Regions from separate parts of the Homo sapiens genome. Here region 1 is linked to region 2. The links come from fine-mapping of genetic effects on gene expression. A gene starts in region 2. The other region holds a variant in brackets. All regions are shown on one strand. Distances are between the middles of the regions.

Evidence for each region. PIP is the estimated chance that this variant, and not a neighbour inherited with it, causes the effect.
Region 1: its variant is the best candidate, but not a certain one, in a credible set for the expression of NFKBIA in whole blood (INTERVAL, PIP 0.68).

Annotation. Positions count from the first base shown.
Region 1 is chr14:35,087,790-35,093,163 of GRCh38, reverse strand. PPP2R3C (protein phosphatase 2 regulatory subunit B''gamma) reads left to right here. Exons shown (of 13, transcript NM_017917.4): 11 at 1,957-2,094; 12 at 5,154-5,213. All of the region lies in intron 1 of LOC101927178 (a long non-coding RNA gene), which reads right to left. Among named protein-coding and RNA genes, the nearest start is that of PRORP-PSMA6, 31 kb to the left of the region's middle. The variant G/A (reference allele first, on the strand shown) is at 3,244.
Region 2 is chr14:35,402,646-35,407,958 of GRCh38, reverse strand. It overlaps NFKBIA (NFKB inhibitor alpha), which reads left to right and starts at 3,210. Exons shown (of 6, transcript NM_020529.3): 1 at 3,210-3,541; 2 at 4,161-4,269; 3 at 4,599-4,809; 4 at 5,100-5,188; 5 at 5,296-5,313. The coding sequence starts at 3,315. RefSeq lists enhancers at 712-771, 2,749-3,148, 2,353-3,224, 4,329-4,378, 4,409-4,718 and 1 more and silencers at 3,219-3,388, 3,539-4,128.

The DNA of each region.
Region 1 (5,374 bases), 310 kb after region 2:
TCGGCTCACTGCAAGCTCCGCCTCCCGGGTTGACGCCATTCTCCTGCCTCAGCCTCCCGAGTAGCTGGGACTACAGGCGCCCGCCACCATGCCCGGCTAATTTTTTTTTGTATTTTTAGTAGAGACGGAGTTTCACCGTGTTAGCCAGTATGGTCTCGATCTCTTGACCTTCTGATCTGCCCGCCTCGGCCCCCCGAAGTGCGTATCCTGTTTTTATAGGGAAGGCTTTCTGTTCTCTTCATGTCTTTCTGGCCTTTCCATTTTGCCTTTTTATGGATGAGAGCAGTGTCAGCTCACTGTAAAATGTCTGGCAATCTCAAGACAGCTTCTTATTGGAAATCTGAATTAAAAATTTTAAACAATATTTTAAAATAGCAATTTAAATATACTGTTCTGAGACTGGGCACGGTGGCTCACACCTGTAATCCTAGCATTTTGGGAGGCCGAGGTGGGTGGATCACCTGAGGTTGGGAGTTTTGAGACCAGCCTGACCAACTTGGAGAAACCGCTTCTCTACTAAAAATACAAAATTAGCCAGGCGTGGTGGTGCATGCCTGTAATCCCAGATACTCAGGAGGCTGAGGCAGGAGAATGACTTGAACCTGGGAGGCAGAGGTTGTGGTGAGCCAGGATCGCGCCATTGCACTCCAGCCTGGGCAACAAGAGCGAAACTCCATCTCAAAAAAAAAATTATACTGTTCTGTTCATTCCAGATAAAAAATTTGTTTTTCAAAATAACTGCACTGAAATGAAGTTATAAGTTTATAGCTTAGTCATCTGTTTCAAAAGTTTGAAGCAGGATGCAGTAGTTCATCCCTCTAGTCCCAGCACTTTGGGAGGCCGAGGCCAGATGATTGCTTGAGCCCAGGAGTTTGAGACTAGCATGGGTAATACAGGAAAACCCCATCTCTACAAAGAATTTAAAAAATTAGCCAAGTGTGATGGCGTGTACCTGTAGTCTCAGCTGCCTCGGAGGCTGTAGTGGGAAGATTGCTTGAGCCTGGGAGATCAAGGTTGCAGTGAACTATGATCGTACCACTGCACTCCAGCCTGGTTGATAAAGTGAGACCCTGTCTCAAAAACAAGAATAATGAAAGAAAATTATAGTTTAACACAGCAAATCTCTCATAAAAAAATGAACTAGGGCTGGGCACAGTGGTGCATGCCTATAATCCCAGCACTTTGGGAGGCCGGGGCAGGCGGGTCACTTGAGGTCAGGAGTTTGAGACCAGCTTGGGTAACATGGAAAATCCTGTCTCTACTAAAAATATAAAAATTAGCTGGGCATAGTGGTGTGCACCTGTATTCCCAGCTACTTGGGAGGCTGAGACAGGAGAATCGCTTGAACCTGGGAGGCAGAGGTTTCAGTGAGCTGAGATTGCACCACTGCACTCCAGCCTGGGCAATAGAGCAAGACTCCGTCTCAAAAAAATAAATAAATAAAAAAGAACTATGTCCTCAAAACTGTCCTGTGTAGATTATATATAGAATTCCTATGGCTGGGCAGGGTGGCTCACACCTATAATCCCAGCACTTTGGGAGGCTGAGGCGGGCGGATCACCTGAGGTCGGGAGTTCGAGACCAGCTTGACCAACATGGAGAAACCCCATCTCTACTAAAAATACAGAATTAGCCAGGCATGGTGGCACATGCCTGTAATCCCAGCTACTCCGGAGGCTGAGGCAGGAGAATTGCTTGAACCCGGGAGGTGGAGGTTGTGGTGAGCCAAGATTGTGCCATTGCAACTCCAGCCTGGGCAATGAGAGTGAAACTCTGTCTCGAAAAAAATTCCCTAGAAACCAATATTAAGTATATAAATGGATTTCTCATATCATAACTTAGGGAAAAAATTAAATTTGCCACCTTTGATTGCAAAATAGCTTCAAATCATAAGATATTCACTTGAAAGTTAATTTCAACTAAGGCCTCTAATGAACATTATTTTCTGTTCTGTAGGACTATAAGACCTACTTGGACTTTGTCCTTGCATTAGAAAACAGAAAGGAACCTGCAGCTCTACAATATATTTTCAAACTGCTTGATATTGAGAACAAAGGATACCTGAATGTCTTTTCACTTAATTATTTCTTTAGGGTAAGTCTCATTTGCATAAGTGAGTCATTGTTCCTTAAGATATATCATTTTGTTGCTGCCGGTGCAGTGGCTCACGCCTGTAATCCCAGCACTTTGGGAGGCCGAGGCAGGTGGATCACAAGGTCAGGAGATAGAGACCATCCTGGCTAACATGGTGAAACCCCGTCTCTACTAAAAATACAAAAAATTAGCCAGGTGTGGTGGTGGGTGCCTGTAGTACCAGCTATTTGGGAGGCTGAGGCAGGAGAATGGCGTGAACCCGGGAGGCAGAGTTTGCAGTGAGCCGAGATCGTGCCACTGCACTCCAGCCTGGGCGACAGAGCGAGACTCCGTCTCAAAAAAAAAAAAAAAAAAAAAATTGTGAGATGCAGCAAAAGCAGTGGCTAGAGGGAAATTTATAGTATTGAATGCATATACTGGAAAATGTTAAAGATCTAAAATCAGCATCTACTTTAGGAAATTAGAAAAAGAAGAGCAAATTAAAGATATATCATTTGGTTTAAATTAAATATTTAGTAACCATTTTACCTAACTCGTGATTTTTATTTATTTTTTTCTTTTTTTGAGAAAGGGTCTGGCTCTGTCGCCCAGGCTGCAGTGGCATGATCATAGCTCGCCGCAACCTCCAACTCCTGGGCTCAGGCAGTCTTCCCACTCAGCCTCCCCAATAACTGGGTCCACATGCCTGTAATCCCAGCTACTTGGGAGGCTGAGGCAGGAGAATCACTTGAACCCAGGAGGCGGAGGTTGCAGTGAGCTGAAATCGCGTCACTGCATTCTAGCTTGGGCAGCAAAGCAACACTCGGTCTCAAAAAAAAAAAAAAAAAAAAAACTACAACTACCAAAGTCTATAAAAATTTCTGTGGAAAGGAGCTACCTTTTCTGAACTGCTTAGCATCTTACAAGTTTTTCATCACAAGTATAGAATTTATCACATATTTGTATTTCCAATGGTAGTACAGCCCCTGACGTATATTTACATATTTTTATTTTACATCTAGTCAAATCAGCTTTCACTCAATTTTTTTAAGTAGGAAAGAAAACTAAAAACTTGATTTCTTTCTGAAATCTGTTATGTAAATGCTTTTATTAAATTTAAAAATCGGCCGGGTTGCGGTGGCTCATGCCTGTAATCCCAGCACTTTGGGA[G/A]GCCAGGGTGGGCGGATCGCAAGGTCAGGAGATCAAAACCATCCTCACTAACATGGTGAAACCCATCTCTACTAAAAATGCAAAAAAATCAGCCGGGCGTGGTGGCGGGCGCCTATAGTCCCAGCTACTCGGGAGGCTGAGGCAGGAGAATGGCATGAACCCAGGAGGCAGAGCTTGCAGTGAGCCGAGATTGCGCCACTGCACTGCAGCCTGGGTAACAGAGCGAGACTGAGTCTCAAAAAGAAAAAAAAAAATTAAAAAATCATACCCCAGGCATGGTGGCTCACACCTGTAATCCTAGCACTTAGGGAAGCTGAGGCAGGAGGTTCACTTGAGCACAGGAGTTTGAGACCAGCCTGGGCAACACAGGGAAACCCCAACTTCTACAAAAAATTTAAAAAATTAGCTGGGTGTAGTGGTCACATGCCTGTGGTCCCGGTTACTGGGGAGGCTGTGCCCAGCCAGTTGTAGATACTTTTATTTGCTATGTTGAAATAAACCATGAAAATAATTTTTAGGCCAGGCGTGGTCGCTCATGCTTCTAATCCCAGCACGTTGGGAGGCCAGGGAAGGAGGGTTGCTTGAGCCCAGGAGTTGGGAAACCAGCCTGGGCAACATAGGGAGACTCCATCTCTACAAAAAAATTAAAAATTAGCTGGGTGTGGTGGCACATGCCTGCAGTCCCAGCTACTTGAGAGGCTAAGGTGGGAAGATCACTAGAGTCCGGGAGGTCAAGGCTGCAGTGATCCATGATTTGCCACTGCACTACGGCCTGAATGACAGAGTAAGACCCTATCTCTAAAAATAAAAATTAAAAAAACTGAATGCTATATGGGCTTATATCAGCGGCTCATCTGAGAAAATAAATACCAACCCATCATAGGAATGCCCCTACTTTAGACAAACCTATTAGGTAAAAATCCAGTCTTAAGAAAATAAATGTATTTGAAATTAAACACTGCTCTTTTTCATAAAGATTTCTTTACAGTATTTTCTACTCTTAGAATATTAAATTGTTTTAAAACTACTTTAAAAATATTTCATATAGGCATTTTGTCAAAGCTTATTTAGGCTTGGTTATATGGGATAAGGTAAAAAGTGTCCAATGCTGAGCCCTATAATCCTGGGCTGTTCACAGAGCGTTTGGACATCACTATCCTAATGATAAAGCTGGGTCTGGATGATTCACTCTAGATCATACCATCTATTACTATATTAACAGAGCATGTACTCAGATTCTTATCTACTTCAAAGGGATTCCTTTATGGATACTCTGATTATTAGTGGTAACAGAGTAGGCATCGGGAACAAAGTTGACTGTTCACCAAGAATTTGAAACTTCACATTTCCAGTGAATAATGCTCACCTGAAGTATTTTGTATTCCTACTGGATGACAGCAGTTTCTTCATTTTTTTGTTAAAGTTTATGAAAAGGAAGAGTTTTGGGAGGTCTACCTCCATTTCTTGTATTACGTAGAAAGCAAAGTGTAGGGTAGGAAGGGAGACAGTAGATTGGGGATCTTAAGAGAATAGTGAAGGCAGGAATAACATTCATGGAAAATGAGAGGAGCAGATCAAACAGAATAATTGTGAGGCCATGCTGAGGGCCTGTTTGAGGTTGGAGAACATTCCTATGTAGAAGCAGCAATCCGTAATCTTTTTATTTTTTTTCCTGAAGTTCTCAATAGTTAAGATATAGGTCTAAAAAGGTCAATACACTAATCGAGAATTTAGGTTTTGCTCACTGATGTGGAATAAGGTCAAGAAAGCTAAGAAGATTGGCAAGAGAGAGAATGATGAGGTTTGTGGCCTGATAGGAAAGGAAGTATAAGTAGAAAGGGGTTGTAGGGCAAAAGAGGGATGTTGTGTATTTCATTTTTTATTTACAGATTTATTTCTATTAAATACAGGCCATACAGGAACTAATGAAAATCCATGGACAAGATCCTGTTTCATTTCAAGATGTCAAGGTTATCTTTTCCTTTAATTTACGTATTACCAGATAATTATGAGATAGTCATTTGTATTACATGAAATTTTATATGAAAGCAACTAATGAAGTACTATTTGAATCAAGTGTTTGCTTTTTGTTCTGAACTGATATTTAAATCATTACGAACTGAGACCACAT
Region 2 (5,313 bases):
TGTATCTTTAGTAGAGACGGGGTTTCATCATGTTGGCCAGGCTGGTCTCGAACTCCTGACCTCATGATCCACCTGCCTCAGCCTCCCAAAGTGCTGAGATTATAGGCGTGAGCCACTGCGCACAGCCTACAGTTTTAACATTTTTTTTAACGGTTATGTTAGCTAGAATGTTTGACAATGAGGAGGAGAAAAATCTGAGTGCTGAAGGGTCCATAAAGGTCTTTCTTTTTCTTTTTTTTCTTTTTGAGACAGGGTCTCAGTCTGTTGCTCAAGCTGGAGTGCAGTTGTGCCATCATGGCTCACTACAAACTCCACCTCCCAGGCTCAAGCAATTCTCCCACTTCTGCCTCTGGAGTAGCTGGGACTACAGGCACCTGCCACCACACTCTGCTAATTATATTTTTTGTAGAGACAAGAGTTTAGCCTTGTTGCCCAGGCTGGTCTCCAACTCCTGGGTGGCAAGCAATCCTCCTGCCTCAGCAACCCAAAGTGCTGAAATTACAGCAGTGAGCCACAACTCCTGGCCCATAAAGGTCTTTCTAAATCAAAACCAGACCCTCTTGTTGTCTTCTGCCCAGTCTGCTCATGGTTCTAATTTCCAAGTGTATATTCTTTTTCACCCACGTTGTAATGTTTGTTGACTTAAACCATATAGCGCTATAGATGATGGGGAGAAAACCTGTTGGATCACATTATTCAAAACTGTTTCCCAGAGTCGCAGGAAAACAATAGGTACCTCCTTGGAAATCTCCACTGTAGGGACAAGTCATCAAGGCTCAGCACCTCCCAATTTTTGCAAAAGGCACTATGACAAATCAAGGAACGCCTGTGCCTTACTCTTACCACTAGGTGTCACACAAAACAATCAGGAATAAACACCAAGATCCTGAAGGCTACCAGAAATATAAAACCATAGAAGGTGGTGCAAAAAAACCTTATTCCTCAGATATTTTTATTTTTTATAACCATTTTTATACCTGAAGCCAAATATCTTCTTCTGATGTATCCTCTATAATTGGGACATTTAGAGTTTGATGTTTCTGTACTTGTTTAAAAGAAGTGACTATCCCCAGATGGGGGTCAGGGGACACCCACCCTTTATTTTCCCTAACAGTTGGAGTAGAAAATACTTTTGAGTACATTCCAAATTATAGTGTAGTCAGTCTGATTTTCACAGCGTGTTTTCAAAAGTGTTAATACTAAGACTGCTTTGGCCAAATGATTAATATACTGCCAAGGGGTTCCTGGGTAAATTTCTATGCATTTCAGTTTCTTTTTAGGGAAGTAGGAACAATATCTATCTTACAAGATTAGTTCTGAGAACAATGTGGTACATAAGGCGCTGGAATTCTTTCAAAAATTTATACCCTGACATTTCCAAGAGCCATGGTCACCCTTACAAAGGAGAGTTAGGCATGCATTTGTAGACAAGCAATATGACTTTTAAGCTAGAAAAGACCTTAAGTAACATTCAATCTAATCTTATTATAAAAGTTAAGTATACCACAAAAAAGTTAACTGACCTCTCCAACTAATGTGCAGTCAAGTAAAGATAGAACCTGGAATTGAGATGTCCCATTGCAGTCACTGTTTCACCTTGCCTCAATCATTGTAGATTTGCATATCATAAACCTGCAGAGACAATGGTGTCTATCCCTGGGAAGTTTTCATTGTAACATGTGATCATTATTACCCTGGAGGGTCTATCTGATTTTAATTTTTTTCCCTTCATACTTGGTCTCTCTCTATCGAGTCAGATTTCTTTCATTCTAATATTAGGGGAGGGGTGGAGATACGAAGAGAGGGGAAGGATTGGTTAGTACAAGGCCAGTCAAGGTAAAGATGATTGCAATAATCACCAGAAATCTCTGCAGAACTACAGAGGCCTCCTGGGACTAATTCTGAAGAGCTCTGACCGAAGTTTGCTTTATTTTGCCTGTACCAATTCTACCAAGTAGATGAATTCAGTCCATGGCTTGCAGGCTTGGAGGTGGAGGTGGAGTGGAGAGCATAAATTATATTTCTGCAGGTGAAACCAGAGCATAGTGAGCCGAAACCCCTTTCTACCCAGGTGGCGTGAATGGGTCCAACTGCTACTGTCCCCCAGGACAAGAGAGCAAGGAGGGGCGGGCAGGATGGGACTACCTTGAGCCTCCCGCAGGATGCCTGGCAACTACTTTCTTAGTGGTCCTTAAGGTCCAATCGCGGTTAAGGCACTAACTAAACTCATTCTTCAGCCTCCTTCTCTAAGTTCTCCTCGAATTTGGGTGCCCAGAAGTAGGCTCACGATCCTTTTTCTGCGGGAGCACAATGTAGGTCAGATAGCATAAACGAATAGCTACTTATGAACACAATAGCTACTCTGCTATTGCAAGGTATCCACAACCACCACTACAAACATTAACACCTTGCTTTACTTGGGAAACAAAAAAAATCATGGTCCTATTCAGCAGTTTCCCCATACAGGGAGCGTTTGCCCCTCCCCCAGTCAACAGGGCTGTTCATCCCTAGGAAGTGATTTGAGAGTTCTCCAAGGATTTAGGCTTTTCACTCCTCCAAAGCTTTCACAACTTCTACCTGGCGGGGGTGCGTGGGGGGGTGGGGGCGAAGCTAAAAGTTCCTTTGCTGCAAAGAGCCTGGTATAGGCAGAAACACCGGCGCGGCCTGCAGCCCCCTAACCACAGTGCGTCCTTCCCCTTAGAAGTCTGGGGAAAGCAAATCCCTACGCCCAGCCATCATTTCCACTCTTGCGTTTTCAAAAGATCAAAAAACGGAAAGGACCGGCAGGTTGGCAAACCCCAAAGAGGGACCGCCCATCAGGTCGGCGTCCTTGGGATCTCAGCAGCCGACGACCCCAATTCAAATCGATCGTGGGAAACCCCAGGGAAAGAAGGCTCACTTGCAGAGGGACAGGATTACAGGGTGCAGGCTGCAGGGAAGTACCGGGGGGAGGGGGCCTGGTCGGAAGGACTTTCCAGCCACTCGGCGCTCATCAAAAAGTTCCCTGTCCGTGACCCTAGTGGCTCATCGCAGGGAGTTTCTCCGATGAACCCCAGCTCAGGGTTTAGGCTTCTTTTTCCCCCTAGCAGAGGACGAAGCCAGTTCTCTTTTTCTGGTCTGACTGGCTTGGAAATTCCCCGAGCCTGACCCCGCCCCAGAGAAATCCCCAGCCAGCGTTTATAGGGCGCCGCGGCGGCGCTGCAGAGCCCACAGCAGTCCGTGCCGCCGTCCCGCCCGCCAGCGCCCCAGCGAGGAAGCAGCGCGCAGCCCGCGGCCCAGCGCACCCGCAGCAGCGCCCGCAGCTCGTCCGCGCCATGTTCCAGGCGGCCGAGCGCCCCCAGGAGTGGGCCATGGAGGGCCCCCGCGACGGGCTGAAGAAGGAGCGGCTACTGGACGACCGCCACGACAGCGGCCTGGACTCCATGAAAGACGAGGAGTACGAGCAGATGGTCAAGGAGCTGCAGGAGATCCGCCTCGAGCCGCAGGAGGTGCCGCGCGGCTCGGAGCCCTGGAAGCAGCAGCTCACCGAGGACGGGGACTCGTAAGTGGCGGAGGCCCGGGGCTGGGGGTCGTCGGGAGGGCGGGACGCGCGCGGCCTGGGGGTGGGAGGCGCCGGGCCTGGAGCCCGAGCCGGGGGACCAGCGATGCAGCCGGGCGGGCGCCGCGGCACCCCGGGGCTCCTGCACCGCCCCGAACGCTGCAGGGCTGCAGGGCCGCGCGGGGCACCGGCCCAACTCGGAGGGGCGGCGGCTGGGCCCTGGTGGATGGCAGCGTCGCCACACGCCCCCTCCCCCCAGACCCGTCCTCTAGGCCGGGGGCGGGGCGGCAGCGGGGACGCGAAGTCCCCGGTTGCATAAGGCGGGGCGGGAGTTTCTGGCCGCTGGCGGGCGCCGAGCAGCCGGGAGGGGAAGTACAGGGCGTTCCGAGCTGGCGGGAGGGCGGGGCGGTCTGGCCGGCGCCCGCCGGGGCCGCGGGGGGAGGGGGGCGGAAAGTCCCTGGGCGCCTGCCAGGAACACTCAGCTCATAATAACCTCGCGGAAAACACCGCGGCCTCGGCCTCCAGAAACCCCGGCCTTGCGCAATCCCCCGCAGCCCGCGCCTCCCTGGGCCCCACGCGGTGCACTCACCACCCCTGGGGTTTTTCCCTCTCTTCCCCACAGGTTCCTGCACTTGGCCATCATCCATGAAGAAAAGGCACTGACCATGGAAGTGATCCGCCAGGTGAAGGGAGACCTGGCCTTCCTCAACTTCCAGAACAACCTGCAGCAGGTGCGCCGCTTGCCTGGCCCGGGTTCTCTCTGACCCTGGGACGTAGCTGATGTAGCAGAGTCACCCCAGATCCTTTCTGAATTCAGGGCCACTGAGCACTATTTACCCTCACCTTTTACTTCACATCAGCCCACATCCTAGAGAGTGAAGGAAATTCCACTGATTTGGTGAGGTCTTTATGACCCACCTGGAGCCTCTGCTATTTGCCAGCCCTCCCCACCCCCCTGTCTAGGAGGAGCAGCACCCAACCAGGAGACACGGGTTGAGGGGAACTCGGGGTGTGGGTTTGGTCCATGGCTTACTTTCTCTGGTCTCTCTTGCATTCGTAGACTCCACTCCACTTGGCTGTGATCACCAACCAGCCAGAAATTGCTGAGGCACTTCTGGGAGCTGGCTGTGATCCTGAGCTCCGAGACTTTCGAGGAAATACCCCCCTACACCTTGCCTGTGAGCAGGGCTGCCTGGCCAGCGTGGGAGTCCTGACTCAGTCCTGCACCACCCCGCACCTCCACTCCATCCTGAAGGCTACCAACTACAATGGTATGTCTGCCTCCCTGCCCTGCCCCACCCCCTCGGAGGGCAGGTGACGTGGAGAAGGGGCAGGTGGGCCAACTTAAGGAGTCCAGGCAAGAGCTTAAACTCCTAACATTTGGAAGGTTGAGAAAATATGTGTGCAAAGTGCCTATTGGATGCCTTTATAAAGTTCTTTCAGAACCCAGACTGTGGGTTCTTAAAATTCAGAAGATAAGACTACTTGTTCCATAAAAGAATAGGTGAAAGGAGTGAGGGTTGAAACAGGTGGTTATACTTTTTTCCTTTTGTTCTTCCAGGCCACACGTGTCTACACTTAGCCTCTATCCATGGCTACCTGGGCATCGTGGAGCTTTTGGTGTCCTTGGGTGCTGATGTCAATGCTCAGGTTGGTGCTTCCTGCCCCCGACGCACTGAGTCAGGCTCCTCGTGCTTATGTTGTGAGCAGAAATTCCAAATGCAGCCATAAGCATCTCAAATTCCTTTTGGTTTCAGGAGCCCTGTAATGGCCGG